Linked DNA regions of Homo sapiens: region 1 is linked to region 2. Evidence: fine-mapped expression QTL. A gene starts in region 2. The other region holds a variant in brackets. All regions are shown on one strand. Distances are between the middles of the regions.

Region 1 (8,431 bases), 34 kb after region 2:
TGTCCTTCGGGAAATGCTCAGCCTACGCACACCCTCGCCCCCGAGCACCCGGTTCTGAAGAATGGGCAGGCGCCTGAATGGCCCTGGGAAGGGACACTTCTGGAAGGAATTGAGCTATCCCTTGCCACCATTCCTTTCTAATTCTCACCAGAATAACTAAACCCAAGGTTCTTAACTTTGGGGAGGGGTCTTGGATTCCTTTGAGAAAAATTCACATGCCCAGTGCAATATTCTGGTAAAATTTCAGCGCGCTCGCGGAGCTCACAAAAACTTCCCTCAAGATCTGGATGGGTCGACATTTCCGAGACCCGCAAAGCACCGGTGGGTAGGGAAGTTCCGTCCTCCACCCACGCATTCTTCTGCCTGGCCGCTGAGGTGGCCCCATGCTTCACTCCCATGCCGCAGTGTTGATCTCTCCATGTGACCCCTTTTTTCACAGGGGAATGCAGATTAATTTCCCTATTTCTTTCATTTTTCAGATTCGTCTCCTCTGTGCGCTTTGCCGTCGGCTTTTTAAAATTTCGTTTTCCTCTTTACAGTCGATTTCATACTTGAATTTAGGCTGATTTAATCTCGCCTCTACAGCCCCTACTCCCCCCCGCCATTGGTTTACCTGTCCTGCATGCCCGTTTGGGACACACTCAAACTGTAACTCAAAAATAGCTAAACCGAGTGCATAAGCGGGGTGAAAATCAATCCATGTGTGTATGCGTATGTGCATGGTACCCCTCAGACACGCACACGTTCTTATCCAGAATCGACGTCGGATTCATCTGTGCATCTCCCTCTTTTCTAAGGCTCATTTCCCTCATCCGGACAACCTGGGTACACATTGGTAGGGTCTCCTGGGGGCTTAAAGGAATTGATATGCCTAAAAATGCTTAGCCCAAGGGGCCCCTGGTAAGCGCCGGGTAAATGGAAGATATCCTTGTTATAATTATTAAATAAGTCAGTTCCAGGTAAATATTGGTTGGATTAAGGTGTATGCACAAAGACCTGTGGACTAGAAGTTGACGGATTTAAATTCTAGCCCCAGCCCTGCACTTGCTAAACTGACCCTGGCAGGTCAGGTGCCTCTAAGCCTCAGTTTCTTCCTTGGTGAAATGCTGTAAAAGCAGCCACCAAGCTAGAGAAGTGACAGGTATTTGGAAGCCGGAGATGCCGCCTGACATCGGGGGATTGAGATTTCTGATCAGTCGGGGTTTGCTTTTTGCCTTCTTGTTACTTGGGGCTCTGGATGTGGATTCACAGGAACTGCTCTGGATCTTTGTGGCCATGGCTAATTTGACAATCAATCCTCTTCATCAACGCAGCTTTGTCTCCATCCATTCAGCCTACAAATCCTGGCCAGTTGGGTTTGTATCCTAGTTCACAGCTACCTCTGGAATGGAGTAGACACTCATCAGGTCCAAAACAGAGCCCCCAGTGGGGGACTCTGGTTCCTGATTTGACCTCTGGGCATTCCTGCCTCCTCCTCCAAGCTGCCTGCTGGTGCTGCATCTACTGTTCCTAAGGTGCTAAAGCCTGTGCAGGGGTCTGACTCTGGGTAGGGGACCAAGTTCCCCTCCCATTTATAGGCATCAGATTGCCTTCTCTTCCTGGCCCCTTCTGCCTTTTCCCTGGAAAGCAACAGGGATTCAGCCCGAGGATGGTAGACACTCCCTGCTACTTTCACTCTAGGCCCCCTTTAGCCCTGCCCCGATCCAACCAGACCTGTAGCCATCTGGAATTCCACCAGCAAAGACCCTCCATCTGCCTGCAGCTCATCAGCAGGAAATTCAACAACAATGCAGTTGTCTCTGGAAACTCCCAGCCATTCTGATTTCCTGCTCTGCCTAGGTTTCTGCTGCTCACTCAGGGTACTGGCACTATCTTTCCTCCAGTCCCCCTCTACTTGCAGTCCTCTGCTTCCAGCCCTTTTGGTTTCCCACTTGCTAAATGTTTTCCCACCGAATGACGGCGCATGGTCTGATGTTAACTTAATGAGCAAGGTCACCACAGCCCATTGCCCATATACTTATTGCTACTCAAAATTGAACAACACAGCCCATCACATCTCCTGTATAAACTGAGATCTGTCTTGGACTTGGGCCATTTCTGCTGCTCTTCCTCATTCTCTCAAATAAATAGTCAGATTTCCCCTGCAAGTGTCCAACCCCCATTCCTGCCACCCCTCTTCTTCTCAAGCTTCATCTATAGTCAGTGATCCACTTTGTACCTGGAGAAATCTCATTAGTCTGCGTGTTTATCACAAACGGCATTTATTTACTGAGCACCTACTATGTTCCAGATGCTTTACACAAATATCTCTAATTCTCATGGGCATGCAGCAAAGTAATTATTATTATTCCCGTTGTACAGATGAGGAAGCCAAAGATCAAAGAAGTTAAATGATCTACCCAAGATTACAGAGTTGTTAAAAGACAGAAGAAGAAACTGAGTTCAGATCTCTCAGGTTCCAAAGCCTGTATTCTGCCTACTAGTCCATCTGGCCTCAATATGGCAGAATTGATGACCCTGGAAGTCTGGCTCCCCTAGAGCCTGAAGGTGGAGGAAACAGCATTCTTAAATGAATCCCTAGATCAAAGCCATCTCCTATCTTGAGTCTAATGGACAAACTGATCCCATCTTGAATTGCTGAGACAAGTCAGACTCTACACTTGTGATCCCTTCCAAACTTCAACTGTCCTGTAGAGATTGCACTATGAGAATATCAAAGCTGGTCTAGCCCCAAATTGTCTCGTCCAAGCCCTCGTTTTACTGGTAGGGAAACCAAACCCCAAAACAGGGACGTTAGTAGCAAGTTAGAAGCAGAGCTGGGACCAGACCAGAGTCTGGTCCTGTTTTCCTCTTCTCACTCACTCCTCTCCTCCATTTCCCACTCCCACCTTCGGGCTGCACTTCCAAGCCTGCAAGCTGATGACCCTGGATGCCAACATATTCCTTATTTCCCCTCCTCTCCCCACCATACTCTCCTGATTCTTAGAAAACCAGATAGAGCCTAAAGCTGGGGTCAAATAGTTTTCTTTCATTCATCCTTTATTTCATTCAACAAACACTTATCGAGGGTCTACTTAAGGCCAAGCACAATGCTGGACACTAATTTTATTATAAATTTCAAAATCCCTAGCTACCACCATCGCTTTTCAGTCTAGAAGATGAACCCACCTGAGGATAGTGCATCTGTATGTCGGTGTGTGTATATCTACAAATGTGTGTACATATTATGCCTGTGTGTACCTGTGGGCTTGAGTGTAGGGTGTCTTCTCTCCTCCACCGTAAATGCAGTTCCCCATAGGATGTGGATAGTGGTTTCTCCCTTACTATCCTTGCAGGTGTTCTGTCATTCAGGGCAGTGAGTGTGTGTGCCCTGTATTTCTATTAACATTTATTTGCCCTTCCTTTCTCTCGAAATAAAGTTCCCAGCTATGAATCCCTACCCCACTTCTCCACTGGGCTGACTACCCCAGCCCAGTCAAAAGACCTCCAAGGGATCCCTTTAGTTCTCCATGCAAACCCCACCAAGATCTCCCTCTTATCTCCCCCTTCCCAATTCAGAGAGAACCAGACCCTTCTCTATGACCCCCACTTTAGAGTGGAGACCTGATCCTCTTTGTGGAGGTCCCCTGTACTGGACAGGGAACAGCCTCTCTTACCAGTCCATGGAGCCCAGAGCTGGCGGCGGCAGTGAGGGCCAAGTGGCGGTGATAAAAGAGCCAGGCTTTATAAAGGAGGTGACAGGCAGTGCCAAAGGGGGAGGTGAAGGAGGGAGCAGGGATGCTGCCAAGTCCTCACGGCCTCAGAAGCTTTTAGGATAATCCAGGAAACAGTGGCCCCCAGCTCTCCTAGGGGAGTGGTAGGAGGTGAGATCTGAGTCCGTGAGGTCTGCCAGGAAAGGAGGATTTCAGCTGGGAGTGGGGGCTGGGGGCACTTCCTTCCTTCCGCAGAGTTGGCTGGGCAGTGGGAGAGGGACAAAG[T/C]GGTTCTTGCAGGATGGAGGAAATGACAGCATTGCTAGGGTGGAGAGCTGGGATAGCTGGAACTCTCCAAATTCCATCCCCTCTTCCTGAGTTTTCCTCCATGGACTTGGTAAGAGAGAAAGAAGTTCCATTTTTGAGACCTGAAGGGCTCATGCCCCCAACAAACACACACACACCACACGTCTTCAAGTCAGTTCCTCCTTGCAGAGCTTCATGTCAGTGTTGTTGGCCTCTCTGAGCCACAATTTCTCTCGCTCCCTTTTCATCCTCTTTTTACATACTCACTTCCCAACTTGGATCCCCCAAGAGGACCCAGTGTAATCTATCTTTTGGACCTGGGATCTCTCATTGTCAAATGGGAAGGGAGGACCTTTTCCCTGACTTTGGATGGAGTGGGGAAGCTTAGGATGGACAAGAGGTCACCTAAGACCAGAAAGACCAGAGGCAGAGTCCAGCCAAGAACTGCTACAGACAGTTCAGGACTCCTGGAACTCCAGGAGGGTGAAGAGGGTAGGAAGGTGGCCTGGAAAAGGGAGAAGGGGCCTGAAGGTGAATTTAGGGGGAGCCCCCAGATCTCTATTTATATGAGCCTAATTTTAGGGTGGTTGTAAGTTTAGGTATACTGGCTAACACAAACATGTCCCAGGGCAGAGATGGACAAAAGACCAGGAAGGAGAACGGAGATGAAACAGAAGAGTAAGACTTGTTTCCCAAAGCTCACTGAAGCTGTGAACTCTGACCCACATAGGAGAGTGGCCTGGGGACTTTTCACGGGATGACATCCTGTTTTTGACCACAGCCCAATGCCCTTGGCAGAGGACAGGAGCAGTTGTACCCCCTCTACACACACCAGAACCCAGTACCCCAAGACTTACATGCTACCTCCCTCCCAGGATGAGCCAGGGAGTCTTTACCCAAAACTCTTCTCCTGCTCCTCCCCTATACCCTCAGCAACCTCTAGACTGGGGATTCCCAGTCTCTTCATTAACTTTTCAGCAATTATCCCATAAAGGCCCTGACAGGTCCTTCCTCTCCCCATTTCAGAGATGAGAACACTGAGGCCCTGAAGAGGTAAAAGCTCAGCAGAAAGCCACCCATCAAGCAGGAGAGAATAGAGTATTAGAGGGCTTAGGAGGCAGAGCTGGACCTCTTTCTTCAATCTTAGGCAAAATTGGGAGGACAGGGCCAGCACAACCCCCTGGGGGAACCCAGGCATCAGGACTGAGGCAGGCTCCAGGGAGGGGCTTCCCTGTCCCTCCCCACCTTCCAGCACAGAAAATCAGAGTGGGGAGGGGAAACAAGCTGAGGAGACCACACAGGTGGAGTAAATAATGTTAATACGGGAGCATTATCACTAGGGCATTTCCTCATGGATAAATGTCTCAAATACCAAAGGATGCCTCCAAATTATAGTTAATTACAGAGTTGATTTGCATAAATTATAAGGTGAGCATACAAATTCTTTCAATCGGTTCCATATGCTTAGGTAGCAGGTCCAGTCCAAAAGATGGGAGAATCTTGGGGTTGGGGGGGAGTTTGGGAGAGGAAAAAGACCCAGCCCTCAACCTGGACCTTCAGGCCCACACACCTTCCCCTGGCCTCTGGATCAGTCAGGGGTGTGTTTAGACCCTGCCTGGACAGCAATGAACACAGCCAGCACCCTACCTGGCAGGAGACCCCCTTTCCTCCTCTATTCGCACCTCCAGACAATGTGTTTTCCTAACACCAGTGATGGGCGGGAGAGAGGAGCTGGGAAAGCTATGGGTGGGTGCCATGCGGCCTGTAGCTTGGAGTGGGGGGCGGGACTGCAGAGTCCTGGCTTCTGGCCTTTGGAGCCAGAAGAGGGGAGGGGGCTGAGGAAGCTGAAGACCCAGTGGGGCTGAGGGTAGATTCAATTCAAGCCCCTCTCTCTTGATCTCAGCTCCCCTACCCGCCCCCTGGCCCCCACACGAGCCACCTCCCCCAACTCCAGCAGCTCACTCCCAGCGCCAGCCCTCGGATCTCAGGTTTGATGTTGCCGCTGCCTGCACCTTCCAGGTGGCTCCTCAGCGGCTCAGACTCCCAGACTTTCGTCTCCAGTGCCTGGGCCTATTTCCTCTGCCCTCGCCTCTCGGTCTCCCACCTCCTCCTCCCGCCCCTAGCTGCTAAGACTCTACTTCCTTCTTCAGCTCTCTAATTTGTTCCTCCCTCCGGCCCCCATCCTCAGCCCCAGAGGCCCATCTCCTACTGTTCTTCCTTCCATCTTTCTCCTCCTTGCCCAGCCTCCCTCCCCTAAAGATCCCAGGGCTCCCCTACACTCAGCTGTCAACTTCCCTTTTCCCACCCACCAACTGCTTTCTGCTTTCCAAGCTACTCTTCCTCCCACCCCTAAGCTTGCTTACCTCACTGTCCCCCAAATCCTTACTGCATGTAGTTCTCTGATTTTTCTCAATATACCTGCTCCAAAGGCAGACACTACTGGATTCGCTTAGGCTGCAAGGGGGAGGCTGGGCTAAGTAAGATCTCCCAAGTGTGTGCAGGTGAGAGTTTACCTTCATCTTTTTATCTTAGGGCAGGGGAAGATGATGAAGAAAGAGCCTAAAATGGTGTCTGGTACTTAGCAAGTATCTTACAAATATTTGTTTAATTGACAAATGAGGTGGAAATGGGCACTGGTCTGTGGAAATTCTGTGGAAGTGTCAACTTGCTGACAAAAATTACTACTTGTCTCGATTAATTTTCAGGTCTCCTATGCCACTTCTGTACCCACCAACCTAAGCTTTCCTGCACCTAATTAATGACAGATGAAGCATCTTTTTTTTTTTTTTTTTTTTTTTTTTTGAGACAGTCTCCCTCTATCACCCAGACTGGAGTGCAGTGGCGCCATCTTGGCTCACTGCAACCTCAGCCTCCTGGGTTCAAGTGATTCTCATGCCTCAACCTCCCAAGTAACCGGGATTACAGGCACCCACCATCATGCCTGGCTAATTTTTGTATTTTTGGTAGAGACGGAGTTTCACCACGTTGACCAGTCTCCTCTAGAACTCCTGGCCTCAGGTGATCCACCTGCCTCAGCCTCCCAAAGGGCTGGGATTACAGGCGTGAGATATGATGCCTGGCCTAATCATCCTAAAGTGCCACTCCATCTTGGCACTTCCCATCTCCAACACATCCAGTGGCTCCACAGTGCTAAATGTGTCATCCAGGACCCTCCCACTTCACCTACGCAGTCTTCTCTCCCGCTGGTCCTCATACAAACCCTACAGCCCAGCTCAGCCCAATGGATTTAATGTTCACCAAACATGTCCAGCCTTCCTACCTTTGTCGAAATCATTTCCACCCCTGCCAGCCATTCTTGCCTCTGGAAAGCACATTATCCTTCAAGCTCCTGGCTGGCACATAGGCGGCTTTCTCTGCAAAGGCTTCTCTTATCCGCACATCACTGGCATGCTCCTCTGAACTTCCTCAGCACTTATTGCCTCATGCTCTGCTTCCATGGGCTTGTTTTCTTATCTTCTCTACTGGTTGAATCCTTGAGGGCAAGAACTCTATCCTTTCATGCCACAGGGTCCTCAGGCCAGAGCCTTTCTTTGAGAAAGGGATGGATAAGCCACAGCTGAGTGAATTAGAGAAAGGGCTCCCCAGAATCCAAGCTTCCAGAAGCTCCTCAGCTTGGGGAGGGCATCAGTGAAGGCAGAAGCCTGGGTCGGGGAACTTAAAACCCAAAGATCCATGAAGTAAGCACACACAGCTTCCTACTGTCCCCCTGGCTGGCCCTGGTTGTGTGATGGAAGTGGAAGGACCCACAGAGTATCTGGGACATGCAGGGTTGGAGTGAGGGCTGAGGGAGAGTGAAGCTCCCCACCCTGTCACCCTGCTTGGAACAAGGAATTGGAGGTTTGGGGCAAAGGAGCAAGGGCGGTAAGTGGAGCCGAGAGAAAAGGCTGGCTGGGTGTCAGTCACGGAGACAGGCAGAGGCAGAAAAAGCAGAATCCCCTCAGTCCCTCGGTAGGAATTTAAACTTCTTACAAGGGTGGAAAGATCCCAGTCATGTCGTGCCTCAGCTCAAAAACATTCAATAGCCCCCCATTACCTACAGGAGAAAATCTACACTCTTAGGCCTAGGATTGAAGCCCCATTCCCCATCTGGCCTCAGCCTCCCTTTCCAGCCACATCCCTTCCCACTCCCCAGGAGGCTTCTACTCCATCCTTACCGTCCACATATTTTCACGCCCCACACTGTTCCATGTGTGAAATGCTCTTCCCCATTTCTCTGCCTGATGAGCTCCTATGGATCTTTTAAATCCCAACTCCTATGTCCCCATGCTCTCTAAAGCCTTCTCCAGTTTTTCAAGTTGTACTTTTCTGTGCTCCCATAGTTCTAAAATATAGAGCGTTTAATATTCTCTGATGGGTAATACAATTAGCTGTGTGCATGTGTAAGATCGTGAGTTCCTTGAGGGACTGGAAATTTC
Region 2 (8,000 bases):
ACACTTCTCCCTCCAGGCCAACTTCACAGACCCTACTGCAGGAACCCTTTCCTAGAGCACACCCCTTCCCTGGCGCTACTCCTCAGGCCCCTGCCCTGTGTGGGCACTCAGTATCTGCTTTGTCACAACTCCTGTCCCTGCATCCACGTCTGTCTATGTGCCCAGGCAGACTCTTACTCCTCTGTAAGACTGGGACTCCCCTAGACAGGGCCCAGGTAGACTGGATCTCCTTGGAGGCAGAGGCTGTCTCATTAAACTGGGGCTCCCTGAGGCAGGGATGGAGGTAACATTTTCCCCTCCTAGACCTGCCAGCTTGGGGCCTACCCTTGGAGGTGCTGCGCCTAGGGCCCCTCACCATGAGAGCAGCGGTCCAGCCCATCACTGTCCCTCAGCCAGGAAGACACTTTCTCCCGCGGTCCAAGCCCAGGTAGGGCTGAGGCAGTAGCTGCTGTTGGAAGCTGGGCACCAGGAACCTGTGGGGTGAGCCCAGGGTCAGGAAGGATGATGCCCACCTCCCTGGGTCTCACAGTTCTCCATAGCCCTTGCCCCTGAATTGCCACATTACCTGCCCCCACCCCAGGGTCCACCTTACCTTCCGGTGAGCAGTACTGGGCAGTGAGCCACGGGGCATGTCCAGGCGGTGGGCTAGGCGGTGGGCACGCAGCTGCGCCACCCAGCTCTGGAATAGGTCCTGGGATTTGATCTGCAGAAGTGATGGAGAGGGGGAGGGCTATCTGAAGAGAGGGACCACTTTCCAAGAGCAAGAAGTCAGGGCTCTGGTCCCCAGACAAGCAGGGTCTCTTCTTACAGAGCCTGGTTTGTGCAAGGCTCACTTGCAGGGAGACAGAGCGCAAGGCGCCCAGGTGTCTGAGCCCTTAGCTCTGTGCCTGTCCATACAACAACCAAGAAGTGCAGGTTTGCCCTTGGCTGTTTTTACAGGATGGAAACTTACTTTTTGTCAAACTCAGAGACAGACCCTGAGTTCCACAGACCCTCAGCCCCTGCCCCTGTGTGTTCCAATGCCTCTGTCAGGTTGGGGGCCAACACACGTCCTGCCTCCCAGGGATGTCACCTTGAGGTGGTAGATGTTGTCTTCAGTGTCAAGGTCAATGCGCTGGGCCTTTTTGTTGATGGACATGACCGACAGCCGGACATCGATGGAGCCATGGAGCTTCCCCTTGGTGATCTGGGGGTGAAGTGTTGGTAGAGGGAGAGGGGACCTGTTTTAGGCTCTCAGAGCCATAGAGCCACCATCTCCCTGATGCCATTCTAGGCTCAAGGGCCAGGTGGCAGGTTCACCCTCATGTCCAAGTCACACTATCAGTAGAGACTTGTCAATCATCCTCCCATGTGCAGAACGCTCCCCTACGTCAAGTCACATCTTGGTCTCTAAGAAGTCACAGATCAAGAAAAACTATTCCCACCCTCAGGGGTCTGCAGGGTTGTGGAAGGCAACACCCTCCCAGAGAGATCCTGGGTACCCAGGCCTTCAGTTCCTTGTTCCCAGCCTGAGAATGGGACCAGGATGAGGGTGGTAAAGCCCCCATTTCTTGGGCACTTATTCTGCCCTGTCCAGAGAGCCTTGTACGTATGACCTCCCTTACCATGACAGCTCTGCACCTGGGGGATGGTGCTCTCCCATTAGAGGTGAGGAAGCTATGGCCCAGGGATGTAACTTGCCCGAGATCACACATTCAGCAAGTGGTGGACCTGGGATTCAGACCCTGCTCTGGTCGATTCCAGATACCCCATGCCTGCCCAGGGCATACTGGGGCCAGACTCCTCCCACAACCCCAAGCCACTGCCCGGGCTCACGTCTTGCCGGGTTGTTGCATAATGAAGGATCCCGTCCTCGAGCACAAAGTATCTCTGTGATGTTGCCCAGGAGTGACAGGACCCGGGAGGCCGAGAGGAAGGGCATGAGGGAGAAGGCAACCACACAAATTAGCTTTTCTTTTCCTTCTCATCATGCAAACACCATTGGACTGCCCAGCAGCTGCCCCCCATTCCCACCCCGCCCCCCATGTCTGGACCCTCCCTTTGCCTGCCCACCCTACCTTGTGCCAGCCCTTCAGAGGCCACTTCCTCTTCTTGAGCAGGTGACCTTCCTGCCTCTCAGGCATGACACCCTCTGTCCCCAGCCTGACCCGAGGCTCCTCCACCACCTCCCACAGCTCAGAGGCCTGCAGTCCAGGACAGAGGGAGGGGAGCACTGGTGAGACGTCCGCCTTGGCCCCTCCCTGTCTGGTTCCAGCTTGGCCCACCCACCACCGCTTTCCCACTCTCTGACCTGCTGAGCACTGCTGGGCTTTGAGGACTGAGCGCTCTCAGGCAGGAAGGGCGGGTCCCTCTCTTGGAAGTCCATGGAGAAGGGAGAGGCCACTCCCTGCTGGGGATGTAGAGCAGGGAGCAGGGTGGAAGGGGAAGGATGTCACCTGCTCCTGACGGGGTCCTTGAAGCAAGAGAAAGACCCCCTTAACGCAAACTCTGCTATCACCTTCCCCACCTCCAGCCCCTCCCACACCCTCTGAGATAAGGGCTCCCCAACATACCCTCTGCTCACCTGCCAAGCCTCTCCCAAGTCTGCCCCTCTGTCCCGACCCCACCCATTTTCACCTGATATGGACACTGCCCTGAGAGTGAACTAGCACACAGCAGACGGGCAGGTGCCCAGGGAAAACCACAAGACATATGCCCAGCCCCGCCTTGGGCACATACTCTGGGGCTCCAAGAAACATTCAGTGCTTTCTTTAGAGGCTTCCCTGGGAGTGCTCAGAGGTGAAGCAAGGGAGTGACAGAAGAGGCTCCAAGAAGAGACAGAGGGGTTCAGAGACTGGACAAGCGAGACCTCCTCAATCCAGCTGCCTCTGCCTTCAGGACCCCTCCACCCTGCCACCGTAGCTCAGAGACTTCTCTGCCATGATCTTGCAGAAAACTCCCCAGCCTCCCACCAATTAATCTCCATATTATCTAGTGCTTGGAGAAACTGAGGCCTGAGATAGCCCCCATTTTCCCATGTCTCCTCCCACCAAACATGCCCCTAGGATGCCCTTTTTGGACCCTCAGTACCCCCTAAAGCCTCACCATCCCCTGTCTACCCTCACAGTCCTTGGGGCTCTGAGAAGTGCCACCCACCCAGAGAGGGCAGGACATTGGGCTAAAGGAGATACTTCATGAGAGAAGAGGGGGCCCAGGACATGCCCAGGTCTGCACAGGTCCTGCAGCAGTGCCCACAGGCACCCTTGGCACTGGCCCTGGCCATCCTGGCTCCACCGGGAGATCAATAATGCATGAGGCTCTGCATGTGTGAGACGGGGGAGGGGACTGGAGGGGCGAGGCTGGTTTGAGGTGGGGGAAGCAGCCCAGATCTTCTAATGGAGCTAGCAAGCACCTGAGGAACTGAGGCCCAGAGGGGACAGGGATGTGGCAGGAACGGGTGCCCAGGAGGTTGGGGCAGAGGGACCCTTGCTGCAAGAGGCTGACCTGGGAGGAAACTCCTGCATTCAGCCATTGAAAGTTCTCAAACTCTTCCGGTGTTCAGGTATCTCTGGGCCCTTCTCCCGGCCCTGTGGGGATCCTGGCCCCTCACTGCTTGTGGGTAGAGGGGGAGGCTCTATCGGTAGGCAGGTGAAGGGTCTAGGTGAGCCAGGTGGGTGCCCCCTCTCCACCTCTATTCAGGAGCAGACCCACCAGCTTCAGGTGGGAGGAAGCTCTTCTCAGGAATGTCAGCTGCTGCCACGCAGCCCCCTTACCCCAGGGTCCATGGACGCCAGTACTCCTTGGCCCTTGCGCCGCTCTGCCTCTGAGTCACCGTCTCCGAGTCACCGGCTCCCTCCTCACCGCGCTGAGCAGTGGCAGCAGCTGCTGCAGGAACCAGGAAGGAAGGAGATGTCAGAGCCTCCCCTCTAGCCGGATCTCCCCACCTCCCTCTCCCCTGTCCCCTCCTCCCGCCAAGCTCCGGGCAGCCGCTCAGCTCTGCCCCCCTGCTCCCCGGAGGACTCAGGGCTGAGCAGACTGCCCTAGCATCGATGTGGCTTGGGAGTGGGGGCACAGTCCCTGCTGGGCATGGTTCCAGATAGATCAGAGGACTGGGGAACTGTTGGCTGTACGCCAGTGGTGATAAAGGATTTATTCAGACTAGCATGGCAGTGACCCTGTTAGTACCCAAGGCCAATTCCTAATTAACCCCCGCCCCCCGCCTCTCATTTTACATCTGAAAATAGACTGCAAAATTTGGAGCCAGCAAAAGTATCAGGTTGATGGTGGAGGGACAGATGCCCCCTCTGGGACCATAAGAGAGTGCCAAGAGCACAGTCAGCAGGGGCAGTCAAGCCAGGAAAGGGACAGCCAGCAGTCCCCACACTGAGGCCCTTCACTGGGGTGATGCCCCACTAGGTCAGGCCCCATGGAGATCTGAAAGTGCTTGTGTGTATGAAGACACCCCACAGCCTGCAGTCTCTGATCAGGAGCAGGCCTGGGGCAGTCACAGCTGCCGTTAAAAGGGCTGCAATGCTGGTCCCCTCCCTTCCCTTTACCCTTCTGCTGGAGTACTGTGCCCAGCTGCTCAATTCTAATGAAAAATCGGCTCTTAACAAAGATCTAAAATTCATTCAAATGAATGTGGCATAGACCTACAGTTTCAAGCGCAGCTAAGTTTTCTGGAAAGAAGTAGGTGGGGCCTCAGGTGAAGGATGTGATTCAAGTTTCTTCTCTGACCCCAAAAGTGACATGGGCCACTTATCCCTTCCACTTCATCCTCACCGAGCTTGGTTTACGTTTCAGGGTCTCACATATCTCTCGGGAACACCCACTGTCTTGCCTTTATTCAGAGCCTCAGTGCTGCTCCAGCCACCCCAGGAGGAGGGTGTTGTTAGCACCTGGCAGGGTTCTGGGAGGGACAGGAGCACTGGGCAGCACTGACCAGACAAGCTCTGGCATCCAGGAGCCTCAAGGGCCTTTTAAGCCACTTCCCAGTGATTGAACATCCCTGGGCATACAGCACAGGATGAGGCACTGGGGGAAGCTGGTCCTGGCCCAGGCCACAAAAGAGCTGCTGCAGGTCATCCCTGCCAGACAGTGCCTGTCCAAGACTAAGGAAGCGGTGGCATTGCTTCAAGTCCGAGAAGGAATGTTGAACAGCCACCTTCCCCGGGTCACCCCTGCATCCACCCAGAATGTGCTCCAGTCAAGGATGATGGTGGACTCTGAGTTAAGCATCCCGTCTCCTTTATTAGGAATTTCTGGTTCATGAAGACTTGCATGAGGCCTCCTACCCTAGAGCTCTCAGAATTCCCCATTAATAGAGAATCCTAGTTTTCCCGCAGGCCTTTTGTCCAGAACCACCAGAGACACGTTAGCTAGTGGGTACAGCTGTCAGCTGCCTTTAATAGGGCAAGCATGCGCGGGATGCCATTTGTGGGAACAGGTATAGGGGAAGAGGATTTTCCTAGGAAGGGAAGCAAGAGTGAGGAAAGTCAGATGACAGAGAAGCCCCTGAGAGTAAGTTTAGAGGGAGGACAACCGTGTAAACCACAAAATAAAGGAAGTAGAATATATTTCATTTTATTATAAAGCAGTGCTCCCAAACTTTTCACAGCGTACACCTCGAGGGTGGAGAACTAACATCCAAGCACACCTGGATGGTGGATGGGACCCACTTCTGGGTAACCTGATGAGGAAGCTCTAGTGAAGAAATTCAGGACGCGGTCTTCAGAGCAGAGGGCTTGGTTCAAGTCCCTGTTCTGCCACTTACTAACTGCATGACCTTGAGCAAGCCACTTAATTTCTCTGCTCCTTCTCTGTGAAATGGGTACAATGTGGTCAGCAGTAAAGGAACTAATACATGTACAGCACTCAGCACAAAGCCTGGCACACAGCAGGCTCTCACCAGGTGCCATTCTCAGCACAACTGCTTGGTTGAGCTACTGTGGCAGTGGCAGGTTGTGCCCCAAGGGGGTGGGCTCAGGAGCCCGTGCAGCAAGAGGCAGTGACCAAGGAGGCAGGGGACAATAGCCCTATCTTTTCAGGATCTCTGCCTTGGACCTGGAGAATGGAGAGACTTTGCTCCTATCACGTCCCAAGTTGGGAAAACTAAGGACGAAGCCGGTGACTGACATCTGAAATGGAATCCTCTGCATCTCCAAGTGGCCCTATACCTGACAATATCATTACTAGTGAAAACCAAGTGACAAACACACTCCCCGACCCCAAGTTCTTCCACATGTCCCATTGAGGAGAGCACAGCCAATAACGCAGAGTGTATTTATGCGCAGGGCTGGCTAAACAGGCTGGCTACGAGTCCGGAACAGTGTCAGGATCTGGCTTCCCATTGGCCGACATGACAGAATCCTTCTCGCGTTGCTCTCTGATGTACTGGTCCAACAGGGTGGTCAGCTGGAGGGGCTGGTGCTGGAGCAGGGAGTGGGTCTGGGCTGTGAGGCAGGTGAGGCCTCCTACAAGCTCCCCCTGCACCAGGGGCAGGCTGGGGAGCTTGGAGTAGTTGATAAAGCCCTGCCTGCTGAGGATGGTGTCATCAATGCAGCCACCTGGAAGAACACAGGGTCAGTTAGGCTCCTTGCAGATTGCCTTTCTTCTCTGAAAACAATATTCTGACCCTAGTAACTTGCTCTCCATTGCCCTTCTCAAAATCCTGCCTTCCCCAGGACCTGGGTTCCACTGTGCCCCACACCACACCCACTCTGCTTGGGATCGATCCCTACTTCTTCACTCTTCCCTCAGAAAACTCTTAATATATCCACCTGGCCCTGACCCCTATTAAGTCAGTGTTTCCTAAACTTCCTTGTAAATAAGAATCAGGCAGCCAGGTGTGGTGGCTCATGCCTGTAATCCCAGCACTTTGGGAGGCTGAGGCAGGCAGATCACCTGAGGTCAGGAGTTCAAGACCAGCCTGGCCAACATGGAGAAACCCCGTCTCTACTAAAAATACAAAAATTAGCCAGGCATGGTGGCGAGCGCCTGTAATCCAAGCCACTCGGGAGGCTGAGGCAGGAGAATCGTTTGAACCCGGGAGGTAGAGGTTACAGTAAGCTGAGATCGTGCCATTGCACTCCAGCCTGGGTGACAAGAGCAAAACTTCGTCTCAAAAAAAAAAAAAAAAAAAAGAATCAGGATGAGGTTGGGTACGGTGGCTCAAGCCTGTAATCCCAGCACTTTGGGAGACCAAGGTCGGTGGATCACCTGAGGTCAGGAGTTTGAGATCAACCTGGCCAACATGGTGAAACCCCGTTTCTACTAAAAATACAAAAATTAGCCAGGCATGGTGGCAAGCACCTGTAATCCCAGCTACTTGGGAGGCTGAGGCAAGAGAATCGCTTAAACCTGGGAGGCGGAGGTTGCAGTGAGCTGAGATCACGCCATTGCACTCCAGCCTGGGCAACAACTGCGAAACTCCGTCTCAAAAAAACAAAGAATCAGGCTGGGTGCAGTGGAAAACGCCTGTAATCCCAACACTTCAGGAGGCCAAGGTGGCATAATTGCTTGAAACTAGCAGTTCAAGACAAGCCTGGGCAACATGGTGAATACAAATACAAAAAATACAAAAATTAGCTGGACATGGTGGCATGCGCCTGTAGTCCCAGCTACTTAGGAAGTTAAGGTGGGAGGATGGATTAAGCCAAGGAGGTCCAGGCTGCTGTGAGCCATGACCGGACCACTGCACTCCAGCCTGGGCAATGGGAGTGAGACCCTGAATCATGGAATGGAGGGAAGTAACGGGGAACTATTGTTTAATGGGTGTAGAGTTTCACTGTTAGAAGACAAAACGTTCTGGAGATGGATGGTGGTGATGTTGCATAGCATTATGAATGTACTTAACACGGAACTGTACATTTAAAATGGTTAAGATGGTAAATTTTGTGTGTATTTTACAATTAAAAAATTGAATAAATATCATGGAGTGTTGAGGGGGTATTAAAATCACAGATTCACCAGGAGCGGTGGCTCATGCCTGTAACCCCAGCACTTTGGGAGGCTGAGGTGGC

Evidence for each region.
Region 1: its variant is fine-mapped to the expression of OSBPL7 in esophagus muscle (GTEx, PIP 0.94).

Annotation. Positions count from the first base shown.
Region 1 is chr17:47,851,998-47,860,428 of GRCh38, forward strand. It overlaps a transcript of SP6 not described here. Among named protein-coding and RNA genes, the nearest start is that of SP6, 5.0 kb to the left of the region's middle. RefSeq lists a silencer at 1,795-1,986. The variant T/C (reference allele first, on the strand shown) is at 3,978.
Region 2 is chr17:47,817,914-47,825,913 of GRCh38, forward strand. OSBPL7 (oxysterol binding protein like 7) reads right to left here and starts at 3,881. Exons shown (of 23, transcript NM_145798.3): 1 at 3,753-3,881; 2 at 2,291-2,452; 3 at 2,058-2,183; 4 at 1,816-1,869; 5 at 1,073-1,186; 6 at 593-703; 7 at 356-473. The coding sequence starts at 2,365. MRPL10 (mitochondrial ribosomal protein L10) reads right to left here. Exons shown (of 5, transcript NM_145255.4): 5 at 5,359-6,545. The coding sequence ends at 6,292. RefSeq lists a silencer at 3,844-4,059 and an enhancer at 4,170-4,339.